2 separate regions of the Homo sapiens genome follow, and region 1 is linked to region 2. The links come from fine-mapping of genetic effects on gene expression. A gene starts in region 2. The other region holds a variant in brackets. All regions are shown on one strand. Distances are from middle to middle.

Region 1 (16,050 bases), 84 kb before region 2:
AAGAGCGAGAGAGAAAGAAGGAAAGAAAGAAAAAGAAAGAAAGAAAGATTGATTGATTCAGGGAACCGAGAGGCAAGGCCAGGCTAGAGCAAGGGGAGCCTGGGGAGAGCCCACCACAGTGGTCTTAGCCTTTTCTCAAGGGTAGGAGTCTGTTCCCAGGGGCTGGCTCCTCTGTCCCGCTAAGCCAGGGCATGGTGGCTTCTGGCACAGGCAATTACCAAAGTTTTCTTTTTTTGCTTGTAAAATACACATAACACATAGTTTACCATTGCAAGCATTTTACATGTTCAGTCCAGTGGCATCGTACACGCACGTGGTTGTGCAAGCATCACCACCTTCATCTCTAGAAAGTTTTCATCTTTATAGTATGAGATTCTGTCCCCAGTAAACGCTCATTCCCGTTACCCGCTCCCTCCAGCCCCTGGCAACACTCTCTGTCTCTATGATTATGACGACTCTAAGTATTTTGTGTAAGTGGAATCATACAGCATTTAACTTTTTGGGGCTGGCTTATTTCACTAGCATAATATCCTCAAGGTTCATCCACACTGCAATGTGTGTCAGAACCTCCTTCCTCTTTAAGGCTGAATCCGAGTCCCTTGCGTGTCTACACCACATTTTGCGTATCCATTCGCCCATCGATGCTTCCACCTTTTGGCTATTGCGAATAATGCTGCTATGACGATGGGTGCACAGATCTCTCTTTGAGACCCTGCTTTCAATTCTTCTGAGTATATACCCAGAAGTGGAAATGCTAGATCATATGGTAATTCTATTTTTACTTTTTTTGAGGAACTGCCATGCTGTTTTCCACGGCGGCTGCACCATTTTCATTCCCACCAGCAATGCCCGAGAGCTCCAATTTCTCCACATCCTCATCAACACTTACTATTTTCTGTTTGTTTGATAGTAGCCATCCATCGCCAATGTGCTTTGACACACATCACCTCGTTTGGTAAAAATCGGTCCAGGTGCAAGGGCCGGCCTGAAAGGAGCAAGGAGCCTGGAAGACGGATGAGGTTGGAACAGAAACAGCAAGTGGTGTGTCTGGCTGAAGCACACGAGTGCAGTCAGAGATGAAGCTGGGAAGGTGTCTGGGTGAGGCTGACCTCGGGGGTCTCCAGATACCACGGGAGGAGCTGAGCTCAGAGAGCATGTGTCACTTGCCCAGGGTCTCAAAGCCAATAAGTAGCAGAGCTGTGACACAAATCCCAATTTGTTTTTCATAATTCCATCAGCATTTATTGAACACCTACTGTGTGCCAGGCCCCATGCTGGGGGCTGTTTGATACCAAATCCATTGCTCTTCACTGCTGCTGTACACTGGCTCAAATAGTGGTCAGTCTCCAAGCTGCTCTAAGACAAGATGCATGAAGCGAACTCAGCAGGGTGTGGAGGGAGGGCATGGAGAGCAGCTAGCTAAACCATGGGAGCTACTTCATCGCACACTCACGCTCTCACTCAAGGTAGAACCGGCTGAGCCTGAAAGGGTCGGTTGTCAACTCGAGAGGAGAAAGGAAATGCCCGGTAAATGACAGACCATTTGCAGCCTCCCCTCCCCAGCAGACGAGCTGACCATCACCAAGTGATGGGGGTCTACCAAAAGTGGGGGCTTGAGGAGGGCTTTGATCATAAGCAGTTGCCATGTTTGTAGGTTGACAACAGCTGCATGTCGGCACTTTCACGGAGTAAACATCATACAAAATGATGGCATCACTTCCGCTGGCTTCCATTCCCTCTTCCCACACTTGGTGGGTTCCTACTGATGCGGGGCAGATGAGCCCCAAAACTGGGGCTTAACCCAGGAGGGTTCTTGGCTTCACCCAGGAAAGTATGTAAGGGTGAGCTGGTGGTGTTAGACAACAGCTTGTATTAAAGTGGCCATGCCTAGCCCAGCGGAGGAACTGCTCCCTGCAGAGCAGGGCTCCCCCGCAGGCTGTGTGCCCAGAGTGGCAGCTCAGATCCAATTCTGCACTCATAGTGATACCCACTTTTAATTATATGCAAATTAAGGGACAGTTCATGTAGAAATTTCTAGGAAAAGGGTGGTAACTTCCAGATCATTGGGCTGTTGCCATGGAAAGGGCAGTCACTTCTGGGTGTTGCCATGCCAATGGTAAACTGGCATGGCACACTGGTGGGCAGCCTTATGAAGAGGTGCTTCCACCCCAGGCTTGCTTTAGCTAGTCCAGTGTCCAAGGTCAATTTGGTCCAGTGTCCAAGGTCTGCCTCCAGAGTCCAGTCCCACCCTACCTCACTACAAGTGCCAGTAGTAGGAACAGCAGAGGTGAAGGAAATGACATGGCCCCTCCCCTCATGGAGCTTGTGGTCCGCTGAGGGTCACAAATATAAAACACGCAGCCCATGGTGGGGGTCATGTGTCTGGGGCATGGGGGGCAACTTCTCCGATGAAGTATTGTACAAGCTGGGACCCAAAGCATGAGGAGGAGTTGCCCAGGGAAGGGGGTAGGGGAAGAGTGTTCCAGAAAATGAGAACGTGTGCCAAGGGGCCAGAAGAGGCCAGGAGCAGTGGGAGACTGACTGGGAAGCATGGCTGGGCTGGCTGAGCGGGTAACTGGGCTGGGGGAGGAAATAAGGCCAGGGTTTGCCTTGTTTAGCCTTTCAAATGTCAAGGCAAGGTCAGGCGCAGTGGCTCACCCCTGTAATCCCAGCACTTTGGGAGGCCAAGATGGGCGGATCACTGAAGTCAGGAGTTCAAGAACAGCCTGGCCAACATGGTGAAACCCAGTCTCTACTAAAAATACAAACATTAGCATGACGTGGCGGTGCATGCCTGTAATCCCAGCTACTCAGGAGGCTGAGGCAGGAGAATTGCTTGAACCCGGGAGGTGGAGGTTGCAGTGAACTGAGATCACACCACTGCACTCCAGCCTGGGCAACAGAGCAAGACTTCATCTCAAAAAAAAAACAAGAAAAAAGGTCAAGGCAAATAGGGCTCAACATCAAAATCATTTCAACAGGCATAGAATTGTGGAAATGTTTCCTGCTGTGTCTCCCCTGTTGCTAATTCAGTACATTTTCTCTCTCCCCAGCATCTCCCTACCATAAAACTTAAACCATGAAGCGTTTGGTCCCATGAAGAGCCGTGTGGATACCATCTGCATCCCTGACTAGGGAAGAAGGGGACTGTGACAAAAGGAGAGTCCCTGCTAGACAGCAGCGGGGACTGGAAGCCCCTTTCAGGGCAGGAGGAGGGGAAGGGAGGCTGAAAGTCAGGCGTGAGGCGTCTGGGGGCAGTAGAAAGATTCAGATAGGTTTGGGGGATCCGAGGACATCAGAGCTGGTGCCTATGTCCCCAGGATGCATCCTAAGGGGTCTGCGAGGCTCACCTTAGGCCTGACATTGCACCCAGTGTGGCCAGGCTGCAGCAGATGGAAATGACTGAGGGTCCCCAGTCCCCAGGCAGAGGGGCTGAGGACAGTCTCACAGAGACCCCCAACCCCTGCAGCTGAGTGGAGGAAGCCCAGGAACTGAATGGGATGGTCTTATGGGTTGAAGTGTGTCCCCAAAAAAGATATGCTGCGGCCCTAACCCCCAGTACCTGTGAATGTGACCTTATTTGGAAATAAAGGTCCTTGCAGATATAATTAAGAAGAGGTCATTAGGTGGGGCCTAATCCAATATGAGTGGTGTTCTTAGAAGAAGAGGAAAATGCCATGTGACATTGGAGGCAGAGAGTGGAGAGATGCATTTGTAAGTCTGGGGCTAAAGCCGGAAAGGCAAGAAAGGACCTTCCCCTAGAGGTTTCAGAGGAGGCACGGCACTGCCCACACATTGATTTCAGACTTCTGGCCTCTGGGACTGTGAGAGAACACATTTCTGTGGTTTTCAACCACCGGGTTTGTGGGACTTTATTAGAGCAGCCACAGAAAAAAACAACATATGGGAAGAAGATTGACTGTGAATTGGAAGTTTTCAGGGCAAAGCGAAGTCCAGTCAGCCTCAGAGAACGTGGATGCGGTTCCCGGAGACCAGGGCAGACCAGACCCGCCCCTCCTGAGCAGGTCCAGTGATGGCAAGTAGGGCAAGAGACTCCTGTCCTGGCCCATGCAAGCTTCTCCACACAGCCAGACACCATCTTCAAAAGGAAACAGGAGGGAGACCCCCCCGAGTGCAGAGAAACCACCCTTACAAGGGATAGGGCTTTGAAAGGACCACATATTTTCCTGTAAGAGACGACTTTACAAAAAAAAAAAAAGAGAGACTTTCGGTTTTGTCACCCCTCCTCTCCCCACTGCCAAGACATCAGCAGGAAAGGGGGCACAGGGCAAAAGGAGATCAGATCTGGAAAATCCAGGCTTTTCACACAACTTAGCCCAAGAACGTACATTTCACCCCCTACACTCTTCTGTTTTTTTGTTTTGACACAGAGTCTCACTCTGTTACCCAGGCTGGAGTACAATGGTGCAATCTCAGCTCATTGCAACCTCTGCCTCCCAGGTTCAGGTGATTCTCCTGCCTCAGCCTCCCAAGCAGCTGGGATTACAGGCTCGCGCCATCAAGCCCAGCTAATTTTTGTATTTTTATTCGAGGCGGGGTTTCACCATATTGGCCAGGCTGGTCTCGAACTCCTGACCTCAAGTGATCCACCAACCTTGGCTTCCCAAAGTGCTGAGATTGCAGGCGTGAGCCATCGCGCCTGGCCCCCTACACTCATTTCTACTGATAGTTTCTGCAGAGTTAGGGCACCCTTTTAAGCACCGATACAGGAGAGGCTCAGGCAGGAAACCAAGGTAGGTTTCACAAGTGCATCTGC[A/G]GATGGGGCCACCCAGTTGATCACCAGGATGTTCACTGGAGCATGACATACAAACGCAAATGTCAGAAGCAACCTACATATCCACACGGGACTGGGTAAATAAATAATGATAACGGACTCTGTGCCACCATTAAAATTATGCTGTCAAAAGTGGTTTCATGATATGGGCCCAGCATGGTGGCTCATGGCTCTAATCCCAGCAATTTGGGAGGCTGAGGCAGTCGGAACACTTGAGGCCAAGAGTTCAAGACCAGCCTGGCCAACATGGTGAGACCCCATCTCTACTAAAAATACAAAAATTAGGCCAGGCGCAGTGGCTCATGCCTATAATCCCAGCAATTTGGGAGGCCGAGGTGGGCGGATCACCTGATGTTGGAAATTTGAGACCAACCTGACCAACATGGAGAAACCCTGTCTCTACTAAAAATACAAAATTAGCCAGGCGTGGTGGCGCATGCCTGTAATCCCAGCTACTCGGGAGGCTGAGGCAGGAGAATCACTTGAACCTGGGAGGCGGAGATTGCAGTGAGCCAAGATCGCGCCATTTGCACTGCAGCCTGGGCAACGAGAGCGAAACTCCATCTCAAAAATAAATAAATAAATACAAAAATTAGTTGGGCATGGTGGCAGGCGCCTGTAGTCCCAGCTACTTGGTAGGTGGAGGTGGGAGGATCACCTGAGCCAGGGAGGTGGAGGTTGCAGTGAGCCGAGATTGCACCACTGCACTTCAGCCTGAGCAATGGAGCAAGACTCTGTCTCAAAAAAAAAGTGATTTAATAATATGGTGAAAGGTTGTGATAAATGTTAAGTAATAGTAACAATAATAATAAATCAGCCTAAAAGGGTATCTTTTTTTTTTGAGGCAGAGTTTCATTTTGTCACCCAGGCTGGAGTACGGTGATATGATCTCAGCTTACTGCAACCTCCACCTCCCGGATTCAAGTGATCTCATGCCTCAGCCTCCCGAGTAGCTGGAATTACAGGCATGTGCCATCACGCCTGGCTAATTTTTGTATTTTTAGTAGAGATGGGGTTTTGCCATGTTGGCCAAACTGGCCTCGAACTCCTAGCCTCAAATGCTGGAATTACAAGCATGGGCCACTGCCCCTGGCCTGCCAAAAAGGGTATCTGTAATATGATTCCAATATTTACATGATGTTGCTGTGTAAGGCTAACTGCTTTAACCAACAACTCCCAGAGTTCAATGGCTTAACACAACTAAGGTTCATTTCTCCCCAAGACACTGTCAAATGTTGGGCAGCAGGGGTTGGGAAGAGTCTTGACTCTACTGGGTCATTTGGGAACCCTGGTTTCTTCCATCTAGCAGCTTGGCTGCTCACTAGGGTGTTGGAGTCCTTCACTAGGTCCTTCACTGGGTCCTTCCCATCCTGAGAGCATCCAAAGAAGAGAGAACTTGAAGGAGTAATAGAAGATTTTATGGAACAGGCTGATAAGTAAGGGACATTACCTTCTCCCACATTCCACTGGTCAGACCCAGTCATGTGACACTCTCCTTGCAGGGGAGGCTGGGAAATGTAGTCTAGCTGCATGTCAGAGGAGAAGGGAAACAGGATTTGCTGAACACACAGCATCACGTCTGCCAGTTAATATGTATAAAAAACATTACTGCAAGGAAATCACCCCATTTAACAGTCATTATTCCTGGATGGTGAAACTATAAGCATTTAATTTTTTTTTCATATTTACCTTACTTTGAATTTTTTAATTTTCTGAAATAAACATTTAGTACTTTTACAGAGAGGGAAAAATGTAATTTTATAATTGAAAAAATAGTCTTCAGGCTTCTTCTGGGATTTGGACAGGATTGTTTGGTGGTCAGTCTTACAGGTTATATAATCGAAGGAAAGTTGTATCACCTTCTATGCTAGTCTGTTTGGACTGCTGAGACAAATACCATAAACTGCCTAGTTTTATAAACTAGGTAGCTTATAAAATACAGAGATTAGTGCAGTTTTGTTACATATGTAGTAAAAGGGAAAAAATTTAAAATAAAAATAAAACACAATAGAGATTAGGCCGGGCAAAGTGGCTCATGCCTGTAATCCCAACACTTCAGGAGGATCACTTGAGCCCAGGAGTTGGAGACCAGCCTGGGCAACACGGCAAGACCGTTTCTCTATAAAACATGAAAATCAAAATCAAATTAGCCAGGTGTCATGGTGCACACTTGCGGTCCCAGCTACTCAGGAGTCTGAGGATCGCTTGAGCCAGGAAGGTTGAGGCTACAGTGAGCGGTGATTGTGCCAGGCACTCCAGCCTGGGCGACAGAGTGAGACCCTGTCTCAAAAAAGAAAAAAGTAAAGAAAAACAACAAAGATTGATTTCCCACAGTTCTAGAGGCTGGAAGTCCAAGATTAAGGCACCAGCAGATTCAGTGTCTGGGGAGGGTCACTTTCTGGTTCATAGACAGCACCACATCTCTGCATCCTCACGTGGAAGGGACAAGACAGCTCTCTGGGGCCTCTTCTATAAGGGCATGAATCCCATTCCTAAGGGCTCCACCATCATGACCAGGTCACCCCCAAAGGCCCCACCTCCTCATGCCACCACCTTAGGGGTTAGGTTTCAACTCATGTATCTGAGGGGCACACACATTCAGACCATGGCACCTTCCTCAGACTTAAAGTCTCCACCTCTGTAAAATGGAAAATAAAAATGACAGACACCACATAGAGAGCTGGGAGAATTAAATGAGAAAACGTGGAAGTGCTATTGGCATGACTCCTGGCACAGAGCAGGTGCACAGCCGGCATGATTTCCATCGGTTAAATCTCCTTCCCTGCCCATCCACTTGCCCCCTGCTGGGTCACAAGTCCAGCCCTCCTCCTCGTCCCTCGCCCACCCACACCATCTCTCCGACTCTCTCTCACCTGGCGACCCTGCTTTTTATTTCAGAGGGACAGAGACAAGAAGGATAAAACCCAGGGACGGTCACCTTGGCTTCTACCCCTGGGTGCCTGGGCCTGTCCCTCAGCCACCTTCCTGCTTCCAGACATCGACACTCAGGCCCCCAGGCAACCCTGTCTTGCACCAGATCCCAACTCCCCTGGAGGAGGAGCTCCAGTCCTGCTCTGTCCTGCATCACCCACAGTCCCATCCCTGCGGCACAGTTCTCACCAGCATCCAGAAGGGCCGCGGCCACTCCCACCTTGGCAAAGCCTCTGACTGCACCCCTCTCTCCGGCCATCACCCCATTTCTCTGCTCCCCTTTATGGCAACATTTATCAAAAGAGTTGACCAGGTGCAGTGGCTTACCCCTGTAATCCCAGCACTTTGGGAGGCCGAGGTAGGAGGATTGCTTGAGCCCGGAGTTTGAGGCTGCAGTGAGCTATGATGGCACCACTGCTCTCCAGCCCGGGTGACAGAGCAAAACCCTGTCTCTAAAAGAAAAGAGAGAGGGAGAGAGTTCTCTACCTGTTGTGTCTGCTTCTTCTCATCCCAGGCTCCCAGAACTCACTCCAGACAGGTGCCACACCCTCTGTCCACCAACATTGCTCTTGTAAAGCTCATCAATGGCCTTCCCACTGCTCATCCGATGGTGGATCTCCAGCCTCCTCTTCCCTGACCCTCAGCAGGCTGTGGCCCTGGCATCACTCCCTCTGCCTCGATACCCGCTGCAGGCACTCATGATTCTTTCCCCTCCAACCTCACCGCCATGCTTCCTCAAGCTTCTTGGCTGGTTCCTTCCTCCCCATGTCTGTGGCCTCTAAAATCCTTGAAATGACTGAGACTCAGGCCTTGGGCACTGTTACAAGTTGACTCGTGTCCTTGGAAAGGATATGTCATTGATGAATATCACAGGGCCCTTAAAAGGAAGGGAATTCTGATTCTTGCTACAGTGTGGACTGACCTTGGGGACATTATGCTAAGAGAAATAAGCCAGACACCCAAAAAAACAAAGACCGTATGACTCCATTTATATGAGGTCCCTAGAGCAGTCAAATTCATAGAGCTAGAAACCAGATGGTAGCTGCCCAGGGCTGGGCAGGGGAGAATAAGGAGGTGGTGCTCACTGGGTACAGTGTTTCAGTTCAGGAAGATGAAAAGGTTCTGGAGATGGATGGTGGTGATGGCTGCAGAGAATGTGAATGTTCTTAATGCCACTGCAATACACACTGAAAAATGGTGAAGCCGGAGCCAGGCTCAGTGTCACACACTGTAGTCGCAGCTACTCAGGAGGCTGAGACAGGAGGATCGCATGAGCCTAGGAGTTGGAGGCTGCAGTGAGCCATGATCATGCCTGCAAATAGACATTGTACTCCTGCTTGGGCAACATAGCGAGACCCTGTCTCAAAAAATTTTTTGTTTAAATGGTGAAGATGGTATATTTTATGGTTGTGTACTTTTTTCACCATATAAAAAAGGATAACCGAAGCCGGGCACAACGGCTCATGCCTGTAATCCCAGCACTTTGGGAGGCTGAGGCAGACAGATCACTTGAGGCCAGGAGTTTGAGACCAGCCTGAGCAGCATAGTGAAAGCCCATCTCTACTAAAAAAAAAAACAAAAATTAACCTGGCATGGTGGCACGCACCTGTAATCCCAGCTGCTCGGGAGGCTGAGGCACAAGAATCGCTTAAGCCCACCCTTCCTTGTCAACTCCAGGCTCATCTTGCCCACGCCCCATTTGTGAGCCACCATGCCCATCCCCCTTATTTTACATCACAAACCACCTTTCCTGGGACTCTCTCTGCCCTCCCCACCTTTATTTTTCTCCATTGTATAGTATCTGTCACCTCTAATAAAGTATATAACGTACGCAGTTTTTCACTTACTGTCCATCTCCCTCCACTAGAACGTAGAGGCCATGATGGCAGAAAGTTTTGTCTCTTTTTCCTGCTGTGTTTCTGGGCGAGAACAGTGCCTGGCACAGAGTGCTGCTTAGTAGATAGTGAATTAATGAGCATATGAATGAATGGATTTTCTGATGAAGGCCCACATTTTCTCACAGTCAGTTTCAGCTCTAGAAGGAGGCTGGTGGACCAGGCGCAGTGGCTCGTGACTGTCATCCTAGCACTTTGGAAGGCAGAGGCAGGTGGATCACCTGAGGTCAGGAGTTCAAGACCAACCTGGCCAAGATGGTAAAATCCCATCTCTACTAAAAATACAAAAATTACCCGGGAGTGGTGGCCCATGCCTGTAGTCCCAGCTACTCGGGAAGCTGAGTCAGGAGAATCACTTGAACCCGGGAGGCGGAGGTTGTAGTGAGCCGAGATCTCACCACTGCGCTCCAGTCTGTGCGACAGAGAGAGACTCTGTCTCAAATAAATAAATAAATAAATAGAAGGAGGCTGGATGAGATGGAGGAGCAGGGGGCTCCCTTTCTTGCTTGAAAGTTGATTTAGAGCTTCCCTCATAGGACCTATGGTCATTTGAGCGCCTGCTGAACTGAGGTCTGGTCAGGGCTGGAGAAGTCTGTTCAGTACTGTTTCTCATCCCTGTGATTTCCGATGCTCCCCTATCCCTGGCCCACTGTGGCTGCTTCTCACCTGCTAGACTGAACACCAACTCCCCACCACCCCCACCAAGCCTGGGCAGTAAACTGTCCTCCCCAAACCCCATTACTCCCTAATTCTGGGCCTTCCTCAATCCCAGCCCACATGTGTCTCTCAATCTCAGCCATTTCGTGAGGTAGGAGGCAGGACTGGACTCTGAGGTGGGGCTCAAACACCTGATCAAATGGAGAACTAGCTAAAACAGGGAAGGGACAAAAGCACTTCTCTGTAAGACACGCCCACTGGTGTGCCATGTCAGTTTACCATTGCCATGGCAACACCTGGCAGTTACTGCCCCTTTCCATGGCAACAACCCAATCATTGGGAAGTTACCACTCTTTTTCTCAAAATCGCTGCAAAATCTGCCCCTTGATTTGGAAATAATTAAAAGTGGGTATATTGGACGGGCACGGTGGCTCATACCTGTAATCCCAGCACTTTGGGAAGCCAAAGACCGGCAGATCACCTGAGGTCAGGAGTTCGAAACCAGCCTGGCCAACATGGTGAAACCCCATCTTTACTAAAGATACAAAAGTTAGCTGGGTGTGGTGATGGGTGCTTGTAATCCCAGCTACTCAGGAGGCTGAGGCAAGAGAATCACCGGAACCCGGGAGGTGGAGGTTGCAGTGAGCCAAGATCGTGCCACTTCACTCCAGACTGGGTGACAGAGCGAGACTCCACCTTAAAATAAGTAAAATAAAATAAAATAAAAGTGGGTATAATAAATATGAGTGCAGAACGGCCTCTGAGCTGCTACTCTGGGCACACTGCCCATGGGAGAGCCCTGTTCCACTAAGAGCAGAACCTCTGCTGCCGCTGTGCACAGCCTTCTCAATACAAGCTGCTGCCTAATGCCAGCGGCTCACCCTTGAATTCTTTCCTGGGCAAAGCCAAGAACCCTCCAGGGCTAAGCCCCAATCTGGGGGCTCACCTGCCCTGCATCATTACCAGCTGTGTGACCTTGGGCACAGCTTCCCCGAAGCCTTAGTGTCTCTGATACGGTTTGGATTTCTGTCCCCACCCAAATCTCATGTCAAATTGTAATCCCCAGTGCTGGAGGAGGAACCTGGTGGAGGGTGTTTGGATCATGGGGCTGACCTCCTCATTGCTGTTCTCATGAGAGTGAGTGAGTTCTCACAAGATCTGGTTGTTTAAAAGTAGGCAGTACCACTCCCCTCTCCAGTCAGGTAAGTGTGCCTGCTTCCCCTTCGCCTCCCACCATTACTGTAAGTTTCCTGAGGCCTCCCCAGCCATGCTTCCTATATAGCCTTCAGAATCATGAGCCAATTAAACCTCTTTTCTTTGTAAATTACCCAGAACCATGAGCCAATTAAACCTCTTTTCTTTATAAATTACCCAGTCTCAGGTAGTTCTTTATAGCAATGTGAGAACAGACTAATACAGCCTCCATCTGTAAAATGCAGAAGCCAACAGTCTCTGCCTCATTCTAAGATGTAAACGAAATTTGACTGTCAGTGCTCAGCACAGTGCCTCAAATGCAGTGATCACCCCTAAAACATCACCTAGTGTGAAAATTATCATCGTGGTCAAATGTCTCCAAATGCTTACCTTTCTCCATCCAGCACCTGTGGATGTCCCATTAGAGTTTCTTAATATTATGATTTATCAGTGACCACCATAGCCCAGGTCCTGTCACTAAGCCCCCGTGTGCCAGGAATTCGGTGTGCACCATCCTGGCATCTGCTGGAGCCCCCAGAGTGCTGACCTTGCCTGCCTTCCCCTGCACGTGTTCTTCCTCCAGAAGCCTATAGTTTGGAATCACCATTTTTCTCTTTTTCTTGCTCCCAGCGTCCAGGATCCTAGCTAAATGGCCCTCTAAAACTGTGGGATATCTCGGGAGCACCCCCCTGGCCCAGTCCTGTGGAGACGGTAGAAGAGACAGGCAAAAGGAAGCGTGTCTCTGAGATCCTGAAACTTACATGTAGTTGTGGGGAGGCCAGGCACAGTGGCTCACATCTTTAATCCCGGCACTTTGGGAGGCCAAGGTGGGCAGATCCCTTGTGGTCAGGAGTTTGAGACCAGCCTGGCCAACATGGTGAAACCCCATCTCTACTAAAAATATAAAAATTAGCCGGGCGTGGTGGCACATGCCTGTAATCCCAGCTACTGGGGAGGTTAAGGCAGGAGAATTGCTTGAACCCAGGAGGCGGAGGTTGCAGTGAGCCAAGATCACACCACTGCACTCCAGCCTGGGCAACAAGAGCGAAACTCCGTCTCAGAAAAAAAAAAAAAAAAAAAAAGCATGTAGTTTGCGGGGAAGGGGTGATTTGCACCTAGAGTTACCAGGCAACAATTCAAGCCAATGGCAGGAAGCTGGACAGGATTCACACCGGAGGTGCGGGAAATTCCTGCTGGCGCTTCTGTCAGAAGCCAGGTCTGGGTGTTAGGCAGCGACTCATACCCTGGGATCAAGAACTCTGTTGCCTTCACCTTCCCCTCCCTTTCCTCTTGCTTGGGGGTTGGACGCTCCTGAGAAGACAGGGTGGAGGGCAAAGGTGGAACTGGAGATGGGCCCAGACCCCTCTGCCCAGAGAGCGGGTGGTGGGAGAGAGGACATTGATTCTGGACAGGACCAGGATTACGGGAGAAACCCCAGAAAACCAGAACCAGAGAGCCCTGCTGACTCTACCCACTCTCCTAACTTTACAGAGGGCAGCCTGAGGACCAGGGAAGGCAGGGGACTTCCCCAAGGTCACAGACAAAGTCAGCCTCAGGGCTGAGACCCTGACACGGGTCTCCTGACCTTACCTCCAGCCCTCTGTCCTCTGGACAGCAAGGGAGGCATCGTGGAGAGCTCTGGGGAGAATTTTATTTTTGATGGTGGCCAAGATGCTGTGCTAGGACCTTCCGACATCTCAGCAAATCCTCCCCCTGCACGAGGGAGGACACTATTATTGTCCCCAATAGTCAGAAGAGGAAGATCAGTGATGGGAAGCAATTTGCTCAAGATTCCGCAGCCCAGAGGCCCATTTTGAGCCCAAATTCCTACCCCGTCCCTGCCGTGCTTCTTAGAACCAGAGAGAGGCCTGTCGGGTTTGCAAAGACAGCCTCGCCCCTGCCAGGCTCTGAACCTCAGTCTCGTCTACAAGGAGGACGCCACCTCTCTCCTCAAGCTTGTTTCCAGAATGAAAGGAGGAAGTGCGTGGCCTGGCCCGTGGGAGGCGCTTGGGAAACGGCAAATGTGCAGTGGGCGGCCCATCCTCAAAAGTTCGGCAAACACAAAGCACTTTTTCTTTACAATTTTTTTAGCATTTTTTTTTTATTGTGGTAAAATATCCATACCAGAAAGTTACCATTTTAGTCATTTGTACGTGTTCCGTGAACGTGGCTTTAAGCATATTCACGTTGTTGTGTAACCATCCCCACCATCCATCTCCACAACCGTCTCATCTTCCCAAACGCACACTCTGTCCCCGTGAGACACTCATTCCCGGCGGCCCTTCTTATACTTTCAAAAATGAACCTCCTGCCGCATATCCTGGCTGGGCAGGCTGGGAAGGGGAAAAAAATGACAATAGACTGGTGGAATAATGAGGACAGAGAACAGGAAGTGAGGAAAGAAGAGGCTTGGGGGGCTGGACGCGGTGGCTCACGCCTGTAATCCCAGCACTTTGGGAGGTCAAGGCGGGGGCAGACCACGAGGTCAGGAGATCGAGACCATCCTGGCTAACATAGTGAAACCCCAACTCTACTAAAAATACAAAAATTAGCCGGGTGTGGTGGCATGTGCCTGTAGTCCCAGCTACTTGGGAGGCTGAGGCAGAAGAATCGTTTGAACCTGGGAGGTGGAGGTTGCGGTGAGCTGAGATCATGCCACTGGACTCCAGCCTAGGTGACAGAGCGAGACTCTGTCTCAAAAAAAAAAAAAAAAAAAAAAAAAGAGGCTTCAGGGCAGAGCATTAAGGTGGCTGTTTCCAGAGGCCAGGCCAGCTGCAACCTCCCTGCAGGTCTCTGCCAGAGCCGCCCGTCCCCAACTCCCACCACCCCTCCAATCAGGGACAGCCAAGATCAAGATAACTTCCTGGCCCAGCCTCAGGGCCCTCATCTCTAAAATGGGGATGCTGATAAAGTTGGTACCTCTTAAGGCTGTTGTGGGAATTGATTGATAATGTTCTCATAAAGCACTTAGCCTATGCCTGGCACGGGACGACCTTTGGGGCCAGCCACCATTGGTGTTGCTGTCATTATTATTCCACCCCAAGAACCAGAAATAGAGCCAAGGTCCTCGTGCTTTTCCATCCAACTTTATACTTTACTTCCCCAAGCAGCCCAGCTGGTCTTCTCACCACCACCACCCCCCGACCAAGTCCTTGAGTTTAGTTCAATCTGAGTTCATTGAGCACCTACTATGTGACCAATCTCATGCTGGGCACTATGACCAAAGAGGCAAGCAAGGCACAGTGCCCACCCCAGAGGGCTCTCAGTGACATGAGGAGGCAGCCTCAAGTTCAGATCTCTTTGGGCCAATCCAGTCAGTGAAAAGCACATTTCTGTTCCAAGGGAGGGCAATGAAAGGGTCTGGGGGGTCAGGGAGGCTTCCTGGGGGAGGCGAATAAAGGTGGGCAGGACAGTTCAGAGAATGGGAGCCACACAGGCCAAGGCCAGGAAGAACCAAATGCCCCAGGATCTTAAGAGAACCAGAAGTGATTTACTATTAAGGGAGCACAGGGGTGTGAGGCGGAGGGTGGGAGGGGTCATGGATCCGGAGGAACCAATGGGGTAGGGCAGGTTGAGGGCCTGTGTGTGCCCAAGGAGAGTTAGGATGCTCCCTTGCAGATGACAGTGCCATGGAAGTAGCGACATCTGCATCTTTGTCTTGGAGTGGGGGCCCAGGGGACTGTGGACAGAGGGAGGTTAGAGAGATGACAACAGTGGATAGGTGCTACTGAAGGCATCTTGGGAAAATAGCGGGTAACCAGAAAGGGAGTGGTGCAGGAATGGCGAGGCGGAGGTGGACTGCAGAGATTCCAGAGGTAAAACTGTCAGGATGGCGTGGTCGGCAGAACAATGCCTCCAAAATGTCTGCATCCCAATCCCCGGAACATATGGATCTCCTTCTTATATTTCATGACAGGGGAGAATTAAGGTTGCAGGTGGAATTGAGGTTGCTAATCAGCTGATTTTGCGATGGGGAGATTATTCTGGATTATCTGGGAGGACCAATGTAATCACAAGGTTCTTAAATGTGGAAGAGGGAGGCAGGAGAGTCAGCGTCACAGCGATGCTAGGGAGGAAAGACTCGGAGCTATTGCTGGCTTTGAAGACGGAAGGGGGCCAATGTGGGCGGCCTCTATACTTGGAAAAGGCAAGGAAACCGATTCTCCCTCAAGAGCCTCCAGCAGGAACACTGTCCTGCAGACACCTTGAATTTAGCCCTCTGAGACCATGTCAGATTTCTGACCTATAGAACTGTAAGAGAGTAGATGTGTGTTGTTTTAAGCCACTCAATTTGTAGTGAGTTGTTACAGTAGCAATAGAAAACTGATACAACTGGCGATGGGGATGGGGCTGGGAGAAGGGGCATCAAGGACATCTGGCTTGGGGACTGGAAGGACGGCTATGCCACCAAGCTCGAGAGGCTGCAGGAGGATAAACGCGTGGGATGGGAGTCCACACCTCCTCTGGCTGCCGCACCTGAGGGAGCAGCCCAGCCCAGCAGTGGGCACGGAGCCCAAGGATGGGGGTGCATTCGTCATCACAATCAGGGGTGCAGTCGCTGCTGTAGGATGGATAGGC
Region 2 (15,997 bases):
TGACTGCAGTTTGCCTGGTCTAGCCTGGGCTCAACTGGGTAGTTTTGTTCCAAGTTGTGAATCAGCCAAACCACGTTCCAAGCTGTGGGTTAGATTCAAGTCATCTCCATGTGTCTCCTCTCCACATTTTTTTTTGGAGGGGGGACAGAGTCTCACTCTGTCACCGAGGCTGGAGTGCAGTGGCCAACCTCGGCTTACTGCAACCTCTGCCTCCCTGGTTCAGGCAATTCTCCCGCGTCAGCCTCCCAAGTAGCTGGGATTACGGGCATGCGCCACCACACCTGGCTAATTTTTGTATTTTTAGTAGAGACGGGGTCTCACCATGTTGGCCAGGCTGGTCTCAAACTCCTGACCTCAAATGATCCATCCGCCTCAGCCCCCCAAAGTGCTGGGATTACAGGCGTGAGCCACTGCAGCCAGCCTGAGTCTCAGTTTTCTTATCTGTAAGATGGAGCTGATGGAAATTCCTACCTCATAGGAATCAAATAGTACCTAAACTCTGTGTTGGTTGTCTTTAGACCTGGGTTCTGTCCCACTCCTGCCCAGTGGGGAAATGGGGCTGCCAGTCCTGGAACTGGGGAGTGAGGCCAATACCACCTAAACCGCAGGACTCTTCCTCAACAGAGAAGAGGTGGAACCCATGCCAGGGAGTTCAGCACAAAGCCTACTGTCAGAGCTATACACATTTTTTAAAGTTTTGTTTAAGTCTTTGGATTTTTTTTGTTGTTGTTTTTTGTTTGTTTTCTGAGATGGAGTCTCGCTTTGTCGCCCAGGCTGGAGTCCAGTGGCGCAATCTCAGCTCACTGCAACCTCTGCCTCCCGGGTTCAAGGAATTCGCCTGCCTCAGCCTCCTGAGTAGCTGGGATTACAGGCACCTGCCACCACACCCAGCTAATTTTTGCATTTTTAGTAGAGACTGGGTTTCACCATGTTGGTCAGACTAGTCTCAAACTCCTGACCTCGTGATCCACCCGCGTCGGCCTCCGAAAGTGCTGGGATTACAGGTGTGAGCCACCGCACCTGGCCTTGTTTAAGTCTTTTTTATCTGTAGAAATGGGATCTCGCTATGTTGCCCAGCCTGCTCTCAAACTCTTGGCCTCAAGCAATCCACCTGCCTTGCTGTCCCAAAGCACTGGGATTACAGGCCTGAGCCACCCCACCCAGCCTATTCTCATGCTTGTTTACAATCAAATTTAGTTATGGAGTTTCCAAAACTGCTTAAGTCCCACTAAAATGTTCACAAGGATCGCCTCCCATCACCGGGCCCCTCTGATGCTGTAAGAAAGGCTGCTGTCACTCATTTTATCAGCTGCCTTTTCAGCTTCATCAGAATCTGATTCCCTCTGGCCCAAAACTAACCTAGTGGGCATGGCGGGCATGCCCCGGGCATCCTCATCCCGAATCTTAAAGACAGAAGGGCTCAAAGAGACTCCCTTTCCAGGCTTGGTCTCAGGACCCTCCCCCTGTCAGTCCAGCCTCATTTTTAAGGCCCTGGGGAAGCCAGATGCAGGAGAGTAGAGCCATTAGCATTTGGGTTCTGGGAAATAAGAGACTGGGGTTCACACCCCAGCCCTATGACTTTCTGACGTTGTGAGTCTAAGAAGAGCAGGTGAGCTCTGTGGACCTCAGTTCCCTCTTTCGAAATGGGGCTGGCGACTGCATCCCAGCGTGGGCATCTGCACGCAGCAGTGGAGGGTGATTCAGAGTATGGGCTCCGGAATAGGGCAGCACTGGTTGGAACCGCAGCTCTTCCAATGAGGGATTCCAGCAAAGCCCTGGTCTCTTAAAATCCCCCGTAAAATGGAGATGATACAAGCGCTTGGTGGGGTGTTTTTAAAAATCTTGTGTCATGAACAAGCACACTGCCAAATATATACTCAGTTCGAAAGAAACAATGGTTCCCTTCCCCTCTCCGTGACCCTAATAGGCCGCCCTAACCAACACAGGGACAGAACTAACTAGTCACTAAGTGTGAGATGATGGGGCATGCTGTATGTCATGCCTGCCTTGTAAATGTTCATTATCTCAGTGTTCACTTAGGCTATAAAAAAGTAAATGAACAGGCCGAGCGTGGTGGCTCACGCCTGTAATCCCAGCACTCTGGGAGGCCAAGACAGGAGGATCACTTGAGGTCAGGAGTTCCAGACCAGCCTGACCAACATGGTGAAACCTCGTTTCTACTAAAAATACAAAAATTAGCGGGGTGTGGTGGCACACGCCTGTAATCCCAGCTACTCGGGAGGCTGAGGCAGGAGAATCACTTGAATCCGGGAGGCAGAGGTTGCAGTGAGCTAAGATCACGCCACTGCACTCCAGCCTGGGCAACAAGAGCAAGACTCCATCAGATAGGTAGATAGATAGATAGATAGATGATAGATAGATAGATAGATAGATAGATAGATAGATAGATAGATAAACGTTAACTAGTCCAATGAGTATAATGGCCTGACTTTGCCAAATCGAAGGTGTTATCAATGGTAAGACACTTCTCAATTTTAGAGATGTTAGATATGGGAGGAAGGTGGTGACTTAGAATAGATTAAATTCAGTGTATGATATTACGGTGAGACCATCAAGCTGTGGTTTCATAGAATTAAATATTATCGATTTCATTAGACAATTAGAAAACCCCGTCTCTGTGGGTATATTGCAAGCCACTGTCCCTTCCCCTTCTCTTCTGTCTTGGAAAGGGCATCAGACATAGTAGATACTCAACAAATGTCCGCTGAAGGAGTGAATCGATCCATCCCTCTAGTCATCAAAGAATCAGTGAATGAATCAACAGTGAATGGGGCCGGGTGCAGTGGCTCAAGCCTGTAATCCCAACACTTCGAGAGGCCGAGGCGGGTGGATCGCCTGAGGTCAGGACTTCAAGACCAGCCTGGCCAATATGGTGAAACCCTGTCTCTACTGAAAATACAAAAATTAGCCGGCATGTTGTTGGGCGCCTGTAATCCCAGCTACCTGGGAGGCTGAGGCAGGAGAATCACTTGAGCTTGGGAGGCAGAGGTTGCAGTGTGCCGAGATCGCACCACTGCATTTTAGCCTGAGCGACAGAGCAAGACTCTGTCTCAAGAAAAATAAAAGAATGATGCTTGTTGATTAAACAGCAGTGCTCAACCTTAGCAGAAGGACAAGACTGATTAAAACTTTTTTTAAAAGAGGGCCTTCAGCCAGGCATGGTGGCTCATGCCTGTAATCCCAGCACTTTGGGAGGCTAAGGAGGCAGATCATTTGAGCCCAGGGGTTTGAGACCAGCCTGGGCAACATGGCAAAACCCCATCTCTACCAAAAAAAAAAAAAATACAACAATTAGCCAGGCATGCTGGCGTGCACCTTTATTCCGAGCTACTCAGGAGACTGAGGCGGGAGAATCTCTTGAGCCCGGGAGTCGGAGGTTGCAGTGAACCACGATCACACCACTGCACTCCAGCCTGGGCAACAGAGCAAGACCCTGTCTCAAAAAAAAAAGGGCTTCATGCTAGACTGCTGTGATGTGAAAATATATTTTTGTACACATCTGATGCATGAGAAGCTAAACAGTTGTTCACCAAAATCCTTTCAAGAAGGCAATGTTTGTTCATTGAGAAAATACTAATTGGGCATCTATTATTTGTCAAGGACTAAGGAAGCTGCCAAGCAGAGACTTATGGACCTGTCCTCAGGGAATTTACAGTCTAATGGGGGAGATGGACAGACAGGTTAAAAAATAAACATTTTCTTAGTAGCTGTGTGATGAGAGGTGCCCACTATGCCCTCACCCCTACCACCAGCTGAGAGCATCATAGCTTATTTTTGTGATCAATGAACCAGTCAAAGATCCACTTTTTCATTGTTCAAGGCCCTGTGTCAGTGGCAACGCTGTGTATTCACTGAACCAGGTCATTTGGATGTGGAGAAATAGGGCTGCCAGTCCTGGAGCACACCTGAGGACTAAATTTCCCAGGCTCCCTTGCAGCTAGCTGATGACACATGACCCAGCTCTGGCCAATGGAAGGGAGGGATGCCAATTAGGGCTTCCCCATATAACATCCTTCAAAAAGAGAAAGAAGGAGACTTTCATTGGATCAAGCCTCAAAGATGCAGGAAGTTTGTTTTTGTTTTACAGACAGGGGTCTTACTATGTTGCCCAGGCTGGTCTTGAACTCCTGCCCTCAAAAGATTCTCCCACTTCAGCCTTCAGAGTAGCTGGGTGAACCACACTGTCCAGCAGGAATTATTTGTTACTGCAACAAAGCATAGCTCATCTCACACAGCCCTTTATAAAAATCCCTTCCATTTTCTTACGAATGAGGCAATAGGACTAAAGATGTCCTCGTTGGGCCGGGTGTGGTGGCTCACACGCCTGTAATTCACACACCTGTAATCTCAGCACTTTGGGAGGCTGAGGTGGACAGATCACTTGAGGTCAGGAGTTCAAGGCCAGCCTGACCAACATGGCAAAACCCCATCACTACTAAAAATACGAAAGTTAGCCGGATGTGGTGACGTGCGCCTGTAATCCCAGCTACTCAGGAGGCTGAGGCAGGAGAATCACTCGAACCCAGGAGGTGGAGGTTGCAGTGAGCCAAGATCGTACCACCGCACTCCAGCCTGGGCAACAGAGTGAGATTCCCTCTTAAATAAATAAAATAAATAAATAAGATGTCCTCGTTGCCAAGCAGAAAAATCAGGAACTGAGGAGAGACGCTGCCATGAGGAAGGATGAAGGCAGCAAGAAGGGAAGATGAGACACCAGGCTGGGCCATTGCAGCTGTCCCTGGAGGAGCAGCCACGGAGCAGAGCACTAGGAACCCATGAAACCAGGCTGCAAGAATGAGCAAGAGCAGCGTAGAGGATTGTCAGGGTTACACAGATATTCCCGCGCCTCCATTCTGAGTCCTGGAAGCCACCTTCTGCTTCCCGTTAAGTGCCTGCCCCCCGCCCCTCCCCTGCCAGGTGTCAGGGTTAAGCAAGCTGGCTGTGGAGACAAGCCAGTCTAAGGTGCAGTCGCTTACCCTCTCTGAGCCTCAGCCTCCCGGCCTGTGAAATGGGCGTGGTAATGAAAGTACCTCTGCTGCAGATTCTATCAGGAGGATTCACAGAGATGATTCATCAAGCAAAAAACTTAGTGGCGAGGACACGGCAAGTACTCAGGAAATAAACTAAGGAGAGGGTACTGGGGGCCATCACCCGGGACACAAGACAGAGAGACCCACTGTGCCACATTCTGGGGTCAGTTCTGGGAGAAGGCCCTGCCCCCTCCTCAAACCACGAGGTTCCACTCTCCCCAATGCACATCTCTCTCCCTCCTCTTCTCTGCCCCTTTGAAGCCACAGGCCAGGCGCCCTCCCTCGTTTCTACCCTCCTGAGGCCGGCATTGTGACTGTGGGCAGCTCACTTAGCCCCAAGTGTGTGTGTGAGTGCATGTGCGTGTGTGTGCTGTGTGTGTACGATGTGTGTGTGCCGTGTGTGTGTGTGCAGGGTGTGTGCGTGTGCATGTGTTTGCATGTTTGTGTGTCTGTGTGTGTGCATGCATTTGTGTATGTGCAGGGTGTGTGTGTGCATGTGTGTGGGCATTTGTATATGTGAGTGCATTGTGTGCACATCATGTTTGTGTGTGCATGTGTGTGCATATGTGGTGTGTGCAGGGTGTGTGTGCGTGTGAGCATGTGTATATGTGGGTGTGGGTGTGCGCATCATGTTTGTGTGTGCACATGTGTGTGCATGTTTGTGTGTCTGTGTGTGCATGTGTGGTGTGTGCATGTGTTTGTGTATGTTTCTGTGAGCATGTGTACATTTGGGTGCGTGTGTGTGCATGCATGTTTGTGTATGTGTAGGATGTGTGCGTGTGCATGTGTGTGTGTCTGTGTGTGTGTGTGTGATGGGCTAGCCAGTGTGGAGTACGGAAAGAGGCTGGCTGAGAGGTCTGAGTATGGATCATGCCCCGCTCCAGTCCGCCACTCGGTGGGAGGCCCCTGACCGGAAACTTCTTCCTATGCCTCAGTTTCCTCATCTGTATGACGAAGGCAATGACAGCGCCTGAGCCCCCAAGGGGCTGGGTGGACACAGGACACAGATGTCAAGGGCCCTGCCTGGTGCCCTTTCACCAACACAAGGTCAGGAACTGAAATTCTAATTGGCCCCATTTTTTCAAAAAAATTAAACAGGAATGAAAAGGAGCTTGGGAGAGGAATTGAGGGCAGACAGCCGGGGTTCGCTGTGCTCTCCTACTCTCTCCTCACACACACTTGAGAAATGATTTTTTGAGAAATGCTCTCAAAACGAAAACCAAAACTGCTTTGTTCCGTGCAAGTAGCATTAAGAATTCACTAGGGTGGGGAGCAGGAGGGGCACCAGTGCAGCTTGAGCTTCAGAACCGACGGCTGGAGAGTCTGGGAGCTGAGAAGGGGGACAGGCCCACCAGGGAGCACCAGACGGTGGTGGGAGGCCTGGGAGCCAGACACTCTCCCCTCCCTCTAGGCCCCACCCCAAGCCTGGCTGACTTCCCTTATCCCCTCCTCGCAAGCTTATTTATTTATCTGCTTACTTACTGCTTGCTTGTTTTTCCATCTGGAATGCCTGCACATGAGGCTCACGATGGCAGGGGCTGCTGTGGCACACAGTAGGCACTTAATATTTGTGAAAGGACCACTGAGCAAGTGAGGAAATGAATGAATGGTGGAAAGAGCCAGGGCGAAGCACAGCTGGCAAAGATGGATGAAGCTCAGACCAGAGGATGGGACCCACATAGCAGCGAGAGAGGTGTGGCTCCAGGTGTGCAACCTCACTTCCCCAGGTCTCAGTCTGGGAAAGGGGGAATGCAGTACCATCGCCTCGTGAGATCCTTTGGAGGATTAATGACAAATAATACATGTTACACGTTGTCCTGGGCCTGACACGATGGTGTCTACAGTTATTACTCATGGAGTGGGGAGTGGGGAGGAGAGAGGCACGTACGCCAGCTCCCACCACTCAAATGAAAAAAAAAAAAGAAAAAAAAATTATAGGATTCCTAAGACTCAAGGAGCTTCTCACTCCTTAGAAACTCCCAGCTGAGCTGGGGAAGGGACAAAGGTCTGTACTGAGTGAGTTATAAACAACTCAGCCAGGAAAGCTGAGCTGCCACCACCACACACACACACACACTCTCTCTCACACATGTGCACACACATGCACACACTCTTATACTCACATGCACACACGCATACTCACACACACACTCTTGCACACACACACACACACACACACACACACCAGCCCGGCCCAGGATTAACTCTGGCCTGCCCAGAGTGCTCAGCTCCAGGCAGGATCTTGAGAAAGGAGAAAAGAGGGCAGGGGAAGTTTCCGGTCTCAGCTCAGTACTAATCCCTTCACAGTGCCTCTCAACGTTCAAAGCACTTGTGAGTCAGGTGACAAATGAGGAAACTGAGGCCCGAGAGAAGCAATCTGCGTTCCCTAAGGATAACAAGGCCAATCTGAAGCTAGAACCCATTTCTCCAGCCCCCATCCCCCCAGTCTCCACCCTATCTGTTAGGCCACCCAGATGTGCAGAGCACTGAAGGACACCCCATCCTCACCCCAGAGCACCTCCCAGCAGGCTTGCCCTAAAAGCTCCAGCTGAGCCCTTGGCAGACATCACTAATCAATTGGAGCACCCAGGGCTCCAGGCAGACACCACTAGTCAATCAGATCTGGCTCCAAAGAATCAAGGATGCCTCAGCATGGCTCAGGGGAGTGACATCTGCCTGCCCTGCTCCTCACAGTTTAGCACAGCCCCTACACATTAGCCAGCATTCAGCCCATGGTGAATAAATGAATGAATGAATGAATGAATGAACAAATGAACACGCAGCCTTTGCCAGATGCTGGAGCAGGGACCCCAGATGTGAGATATCACATCTGTACCCTATGCACACTCCATGGACAAGTGCAGAATTCACCCAGAGGACCGACAAACGAAAGAGCCTCATTCCTCTCCCGAAGTTCCTAGTGCCCCGCCCCCCACCCCCAGAGCCCTGTGACGTCTCCTTCCTTTCGGTGTGAACAGGCAACTCACCCAAGCTCTCTGTGCCTCGGTTGCTCCATCCATGAAATGGGAATTATAACTGAACCTGCCTCAAAGGTTGGTGTGGAAATTCAGGGAGACTTGGTCCAGTGCCTGGTAAGAGCGAGAGCTCCAAGAAGAGCCAAACCACTGTCAGTCTTTCTCATTACACTTAAGGTCCTTGAAGCCAGGGCCACAGTGGCTTTCTGGGCACTAGGCCTATTGCCCAGGACTATGCTAGGAAAACACAGACAACAGCGAAGGGCGGGGGTCATTAACCTCCACCCGGGCCAGTGACAGGGAGCAAGTTCTGTGGGGCCAGCGGAGGCTACCCCAGATCCGCAGCCCTAGCCTCGTTCCCCAGTGTCCACCAGCTACAGCGCCACTGGCTCCTCAGCCTAAGAAAGAGAAGACTCAACAGTGACCCCTGTGGCCAGCCACACCCTCTGCCTTCCCTGCCACTGCCCGAAGCCCTGGGTTTCGGTCCCCACCCCTCTGGAACAAGCCACACTCCCAGCCAGAGACACAGTGCACTAGGGCAGCTAGAGGCAGGACCCGGAGGTGAGACGTCTGATTTCCAACCCCAGCTGTGGTCCCATGTCTTGAACACAGAGCACATCCCTCCTCTTCTCCAGACCTCAGTTTACCCATCTGGAAATTGAGGCTGGGGGTCAATCTGGTCTCCAGGGCCCTTCAAACTAGCAATGTTGTCTGCATCCTTAGGTTCATTGATTCACTCATGCCACAGGTCAGGGCCCACTGTGGACCCGGCCTTTGGCTGGGCCCCTTCGTTGCTGTTCTCGCTGCTAGAAGATCCCCCCTCTTCCTGGTCTCCAGGTCTCAGCTTCTCACTTCCCAGACCAGCCTTGGACCTTGGACCTGCCCTCCTCCAGCCCTGTCCTTCCAATCACAGACTTAGCTCTCAGTATTTTCTGGTCTATCTAGCTTGTCTGCTTCCCTCTGAATCGTGGCCTTCTGAAGGCAGAATCACATCTTGTTCCCTGACCCATTCCCAGGGACTCCAGAGAAGGATTCTGGAAGTATCTCTCAGGCAAATGAAAAATGAATGAATGTGTGAATTCCAAGTTTCTCTCCCACTTCCTCCAACACAACACCCCAATACAGTTTTTTGCCTATGGACCCCTTCCCCAAGTTAACCCCCGGGAGCCAACAGGGCAAATCCCACTGTGGATCAGGGGCCTTCCTAACCATGTCCCCTGCCACCAAGCCCGGGTGACCAGAAGGTGTCCACAGACATATGTGCACTTGTGAAGTGTTAACTGCTCTGATGGAGGGCTGACACCACCTGGGGTTTGATGGGAGCCCAGGTCCCCAGCGGTTCCATGCCCCAGCTCCATGCTGCCCCAGCAGACACTTGGTAAATACTGAGGCATTAATTAACTTCCTCCAGGGAGCAGTGACTCTGTGCCAGATGTAACCTCCCCAGCTCCAGGGGGAAAGGTGAGATCCCCAACCTTTCTCAGGTGTACAGAGAAATAAGGCCAGCCCTTCATCCTTGTCTCGTTTGGGCCTATTCCCCTTCGTGGGGTGCAGATCTGAGGGTACCTTCTCCTGACACGTGGGCACATACATTCTCACACACATGCACACACTGGCTGCCCTGAACCTTTATGCATCCCAGCAGAAGCCTGGCATGCAAACCACCCATTCTATAAACGTTTGTGAATTCCTACTATGTGCCCCCCAAGCCACACCGCTCCCCCGGGCACCAAATAGTGCAGCTGTTCCATTGCCTCCTTCAGCAAGGTTTTCCTGACGACAGCTGTGGTGCCTCCCCTTCCCAGCCCACCTCAAAAAAGACCAAGGGTTTTTATGAAGCTGCACAACTGCTGAGCCCTCCCCATTAGCCCACTTCTCAGTTCTTGAGAAAGAGGAGAGACAGAGTGTGGGCCCCCAACAGACCCAGAGGATGGGGCCACCCAGAAGAGGCTGACCACTTCTCAGCTGGCCCCAGTGAATGAAAGGAACTTCAAAGATCCCCAAACTCACCTTGTGGGGGACTAGGAGGTGCCACGAGGAGCTGCCCATGTGAGGGGCCTGGTCCTTCTGCCCCCAACCTGTAGGTGGAAATCCACCTCCATCCCTGCCCTGTTTCCCCATCTGGGCCCCCAGATTCATGTTCTGGGGTACAGCTCTGAATGAGGGGCTGAGGCTGAGACTGACATTTGCTTCCTTATGGGCCCTGGTCCCACAGCACTTGGCAGTAAAGCGGTGGGGGTCGATCAAACCAAGATCATATTCACCAAGAGCTGGGCCCTGAGAACTGGCCTTGGCTCCACTGACAGCGGAAGCTGATTTGGAGGAACCTCTGGTGAACTCCCACCCTGGAAACAGATGGGTTTGGGCTCAGATCTTGACTCCACCCCTTGCTGGTATGTGACCTCAAGCAAGGTGTGTAAACTCTTAGTTTCCCCCAATAAACACTGGGCCATGACAGAAAGAAGACCCCAAATCAGTGCTGATAATATTTTCTGGAGCTGTGGGCTTGCAGTGTGCCAGACACTGTGGATCCCAGACTTCACTGTTGCATACAGAGTCCTCACAGCTGTAAAGCCGGTAAGAGCTCCCAGATCCCTCTGCATGCTAGTGATGTCTCAAAGGTGAACTTCAAACATAAATAAATAAAGTCTTTTTTTTTTTTTTTTTTTGAGACGGAGTCTCACTCTGTTGCCCAGGTTGGAGTGCAGTGGCGCCATCTGGGCTCACTGCAAGCTCCGCCTCCCGGGTTCACACCATTCTCCTGTCCCAGCCTCCCAAATAGCTGGGACTACAAGCACCCGCCACCACGCCCAGCTAATTTTTTGTGATTTTTAGTAGAGACAGGGTTTCACTGTGTTAGCCAGGAAGCTCTTGATCTCCTGACCTCGTGATCTGTCCGCCTCGGCCTCCCGAAGTGCTGGGATTACAGGCGTGAGCCACCGCGCCCGGCCATAAATAAAGTCTTTGTGTGCCTTTAAGACAGGCACCAGGGAAGTGAAGGGCAGTGTATTTTTACTTCTACGTGTTATCACCTGAGCAAGTTCCACAGCCTGTAGGTCTGTATCACCAATAAAATGTAGGTAGGACATCCTTTATCTGAAGTCCCCTGAAATTTCAATCCTGGCTTCTCTGGGAGGAGGCCTGGAGAGGTGCTATTGGTCACAGGGGCCCAAAGCGTTTGAGATTGTTCGAGGGGGCCAAGGGAAGGACACAGCACCAGCCCTGGGGCCATGTGATCTTGGGCAAGTCTCACGCTGTCAGTGTCCGAGTTTCCTCATCGGAAAAATGAAGTAAACACCCGCTAACTCTGTCTTCACTCTCAACGCCTGGCATGGAGTAGATGCTAAGAAACTTTTGCAGAAATCTTGGAAATTCTTAAGACTAAAGAAAGACCCAGAGACCACAGGGTGGGCTACTGGGTCTCTCCACTCCCACCAAGGGATGAAGTAGGTGCTGAGAACTCAGAAGGAAGCCCCAAAAAGCAGAGACTCAGAAGATCCCCTGAGGAGGCGGTGAAGCAGCAGGACGTCTGGTCATGGGCCTCCCCCCTGAGTCCAGCCCCACAAGGTCCACCTATCTCTGGGAGACTCTGCAGACCTCGTTCATCCTTCAGGGATCCACTCATGGACCCTCCTCAGGCAAACCTCCAGACCATTTCCAAGAGCCTCCAGAGCTGTCTGGGCAGCCCCCACCCCAGGCACCTTTGAAACCCCTGGGAGCAGCAACCAGCCCCCTTCAGGCCTCTTGGTCCAGATAGAGCGCCCCCAGGAATCAGCAATCCTGTCCCTCTCTTCTCCCACTGTCTCAGTCCCCAGCTGGGACCTGAAGGGTTCAGGATAAGAAGGAAAGCTGTGTCAACAGAAGTTAAGTCGGTGAGTCCCCGGGCCTTTGGTATTCACCTCCCGTCTCGAGCGCAGGGTCCTGTCCCAGCTCCTAGCTCCGCCCCCTGGGAACTGTGTGGTTCCCCAAGTCACTCCACTCCTCCGAGCCTCAGGCCCCTCCTCTACAAACGTTAGAGTGAGGCATTGGGGAGTTGCTGGGAAGGGCCTGCCCCATATTAGGCCCATAATAATAGTCCCTATTGTCATTATTATTAGTTAGGCACGAAAGGAAAGGTTACAGAGCTGGTGATTAGGGCACTCAGCGTTTCGGCTCCCAGGACGCTTTTGAGCCTCAGCTGGTCGCGAGGTCCACACACTCCCTGGGTCATGCCTGGCCTCGGAACTCTCTCCATCAGAGAAGGTCAAAATTCACGATGTTTTGGTTTTTCCTGTCAGACAAATGGGGAGGACTTCCCTTCCGCAAGCATTCCCAGAGGCCCCTCGACCAAAAAGTCAAGGAGTCAGGCCCTACATTCTCTGCGGTAGAGGGTACCCCCAAAACCTCGCTCCTTTGATGTTCCCCAGTGTCAAGCCGGCGGCTCCACCAGCCTCCTGTAGAGAGGCCTTGACTCCCGCGGGTCACTCGGGGGGGCGACAGGTGCGCAGGTGGAGGCGCCGCGCCGCTGGGGGAGCGATGAGCGGCGCGCACCTGCCGCAGGTGAGGCCCAGCCGTGCGGAAAGGGGAGGAGCCGTCGCCGCAGCACTCAGGTGAGCCGACCCCCGGCTCCCGGGACCTAAGGCGAGGGCAGCCGCGGGCTTCAACGTGGCCGCTGCCAGGCGACCTATGCTGCAGACTGCGGCCCCGGCGGCTCCGAGTCCCGCGCGGCGCGGCAGCCCCAGGAGAACATTCGAGGCAGCAGCGGCGTTGGAGGCCCGGGGTCCGTTCGGTATTTGAATAGCACAAAGGAACCGCCTTGGTCTGATTGGCCAGCCGAGTAGCCCCGGGGCGGGCTGCGCCTGTCACTCAGGAGACTCTCAGAGCTCCTATTGGCTCTTCTCATGTGGGGCGGGGCCCGGGCACCCGGCTAAATAGCTGGGGCCGGGGCCGGCCGAGACTCATTGCTTTGGCGCCGTCTGGGGAGCGCGAGCCCGCGGGTGGCGCGCGGCGCATGGTGGCGGCTCCTTTCGGAGCGCAGCCGAACCTCTGACCCGGACTCCGTTACCCCTGCCCGGCGCGCCCCGGCGGCCGGCTGGAGGCAGAAACAGCAGAAGCGTTAACAGCAGCAGCGGCGGCGGCTGCTCCGCCGCCGTCTCCGCGGGAGCATGGAGTGCGCCCTGGACGCCCAGAGCCTGATCAGCATCTCCCTGCGCAAGATCCACAGCTCCCGAACCCAGCGCGGCGGCATCAAGCTGCACAAGAACCTCCTGGTGTCCTACGTGCTCCGCAACGCGCGCCAGCTCTACCTGAGCGAGCGCTACGCCGAGCTCTACCGGCGCCAGCAGCAGCAGCAACAGCAGCAGCCGCCCCACCACCAGCACCAGCACCTAGCGTACGCGGCGCCGGGCATGCCGGCCAGCGCGGCCGACTTCGGCCCGCTCCAACTTGGCGGCGGCGGGGACGCGGAGGCGCGCGAGCCGGCCGCCCGGCACCAGCTGCACCAGCTCCACCAGCTCCACCAGCTGCACCTCCAGCAGCAGCTGCACCAGCACCAGCACCCGGCGCCCAGGGGCTGCGCGGCGGCGGCGGCGGCCGGAGCGCCCGCGGGCGGCGCGGGGGCGCTCTCGGAGCTGCCCGGGTGCGCCGCGCTCCAGCCGCCGCACGGCGCGCCCCACCGCGGGCAGCCCTTGGAGCCTCTGCAGCCGGGTCCTGCGCCGCTGCCGCTGCCGCTGCCGCCGCCCGCGCCCGCTGCGCTCTGCCCGCGGGACCCTCGCGCCCCGGCCGCCTGCTCCGCGCCCCCAGGGGCCGCCCCTCCGGCCGCCGCCGCTTCTCCGCCCGCCTCCCCGGCCCCCGCCTCCTCCCCCGGCTTCTACCGGGGCGCATACCCTACCCCTTCGGACTTCGGCTTGCACTGCAGCAGCCAGACCACCGTGCTGGACCTAGACACTCACGTGGTGACCACGGTGGAGAACGGCTACTTGCACCAGGACTGCTGCGCCTCCGCCCACTGCCCCTGCTGTGGCCAGGGCGCTCCGGGACCGGGCCTGGCGTCCGCCGCCGGCTGCAAGCGCAAGTATTACCCTGGCCAGGAGGAGGAGGAAGACGACGAGGAGGATGCGGGCGGGCTGGGGGCCGAGCCCCCCGGGGGCGCCCCGTTCGCCCCCTGCAAGCGCGCCCGCTTCGAGGACTTCTGCCCGGACTCGTCCCCGGACGCGTCCAACATCTCAAACTTGATCTCCATCTTTGGCTCCGGCTTCTCGGGGCTGGTGAGCCGACAGCCGGACTCCTCGGAGCAGCCGCCGCCGCTCAACGGGCAGCTGTGCGCCAAGCAGGCGCTCGCCAGCCTCGGCGCCTGGACTCGAGCCATTGTCGCCTTCTAGGGACCCCCGAGGGCACAGGGACCCGGGGCCCCGCGGGGCTGGGGCCAGACAAAGACTCGGCAAAGGGGCGAGAGGAGGGAACGAGCGGGCGCCGGGCCACTCGGGGCTGAGCTGGGGGCGAGCGGGGGCAGGCGGCTGATGTTTTATAAATTGTAAAATAAAAAAAAAAGAAATCTAAAATCTTGGACTTTATTTTTGCAGAGAGAAAAAGCGCCTATTTAAGTATGCTTTGTGTTTCTCCTACTCCTTTTTTTCTTTTTATTGTAGTGATTGCAGTGGTGTTTAGCGAGGAGCCTACCACGTGAGGGAGGGCTGCTGCCCGGAGGAGGTGCCGGGCAGCCGGGGGCGAGGCAGGGCGCCCTGGCCGCCGGGGCGCGCCGGGGGCGCAGCTCAGGAGGGCGCCGGACCTGGGAAGCCGATTCCAATCAGTTGTCAGACCCGGGAAGCCCGACGTTCCGCTCTCCCGAGTCCCTCTGTGGGGTGAGGAATGGGTCTTGTGAAATTCTGAGCAAAAACAAAGGCAAACTCTATCTCCGAAAGGGACGTTTGGGTCACATTTCCTCTCTGGGGGCGGACTCCAAAGTTCTCAAAATGAGAAGGCAGAAATGAAAACACTTCAACTTTTTTTTTCTTTTCTTCCCGGGGCGGGTGTCTTGAACCCCTCTTCTCCCCGCCCCTCTGGCTCCGTTCTCCTCCCCTCCTCCACCCGTCTCCCGGACTCGGGGGTGGCGCCTGACACCCCGACACTCTCGGACACTGGGTAAGGGGTGGGGGGCGGGCACGGCGGACTACATTTCCCATCATGCCTAGCACTGCGGTCCTCACTAAACAAAAAAGGAAGTCAATTCCTTCACCTGGATCCCCGGCGGCCCCGGGGGAGGGAGGGGCCGGGACCGCCGACTGCGTTGGAGACTTTGCACTAAGTTCCTGGTCAGCTGTGGTGTTTGTGTGTGTGCTTCTAAGTTGCACTGCCTTGGTTCAGCCTTCGGTTGCATTTCATGAAACCAGCATTGTTCGAGCCTGTGAGAACCCCGTCCTGTGTCTTCAGCTCGATAGATTTGTTTAATTTAAAAGCCTTTTGTTGTAAAAAGGTGGGGTTCGTCTGCAGCCCCTCTGGTTCTCTGCCATCAGCACCGTGTGGACTCCAAAACGAGTTGCCAATCCTTCCTTTCTCGGCCCTTTTCCCTCATTACCCTGTATTTTTGTGCATACTGAATTGTATATCACCGGGTAAAACTGTTCAGATTGTTTAAATTTATAATCTTAATAAAAAGTCGATTACAGAAGATGGTGGTGCCTTGTTTTCAGATGTCTGGGGGCGTCAGAGAGGATAGAGAGGTGTGGGGAGAGACCCCGCCCACCCCCATGTAAACCCCAGTTCTCTTCGGCCTGGGCGGGCGGGATCTACCCACATCCGCAAGGTCGGCGGTGGGAGAATGGGGGGTGATGTTGGTGGCTGGGGATGAAGCGGGTGCTGCGCGTCTCTCGGCCGCCCCCGCTCCAGGGGGGTCCTGTCCCCCACGGGAACTGGCCGCCCCGGGGTCTCCAGCGGGAAGCGGAGCCAGCCTCCAGCACATTTCCTGCCCAGGCACAGGCGCAGGGCCTGGTCGGC

Evidence for each region. PIP is the estimated chance that this variant, and not a neighbour inherited with it, causes the effect. A credible set is the group of variants that fine-mapping cannot tell apart.
Region 1: its variant is the best candidate, but not a certain one, in a credible set for the expression of IER5L in lymphoblastoid cells (GTEx, PIP 0.58).

The regions. Positions count from the first base shown.
Region 1 is chr9:129,259,086-129,275,135 of GRCh38, reverse strand. It overlaps IER5L-AS1 (IER5L antisense RNA 1), which reads right to left. Exons shown (of 7, transcript NR_187590.1): 7 at 14,539-16,050. Among named protein-coding and RNA genes, the nearest start is that of LINC02975, 15 kb to the left of the region's middle. RefSeq lists an enhancer at 15,991-16,050. The variant A/G (reference allele first, on the strand shown) is at 4,778.
Region 2 is chr9:129,175,226-129,191,222 of GRCh38, reverse strand. IER5L (immediate early response 5 like) reads left to right here and starts at 12,962. Exons shown (of 1, transcript NM_203434.3): 1 at 12,962-15,671. The coding sequence starts at 13,171. The coding sequence ends at 14,385. LOC105376289 (a long non-coding RNA gene) reads right to left here and starts at 9,452. Exons shown (of 2, transcript XR_007061813.1): 1 at 8,039-9,452. RefSeq lists enhancers at 11,154-12,077, 12,078-13,001, 12,739-13,033, 15,408-15,467, 15,397-15,997 and silencers at 12,758-13,137, 13,368-13,707, 14,658-14,807, 15,148-15,197, 15,771-15,870.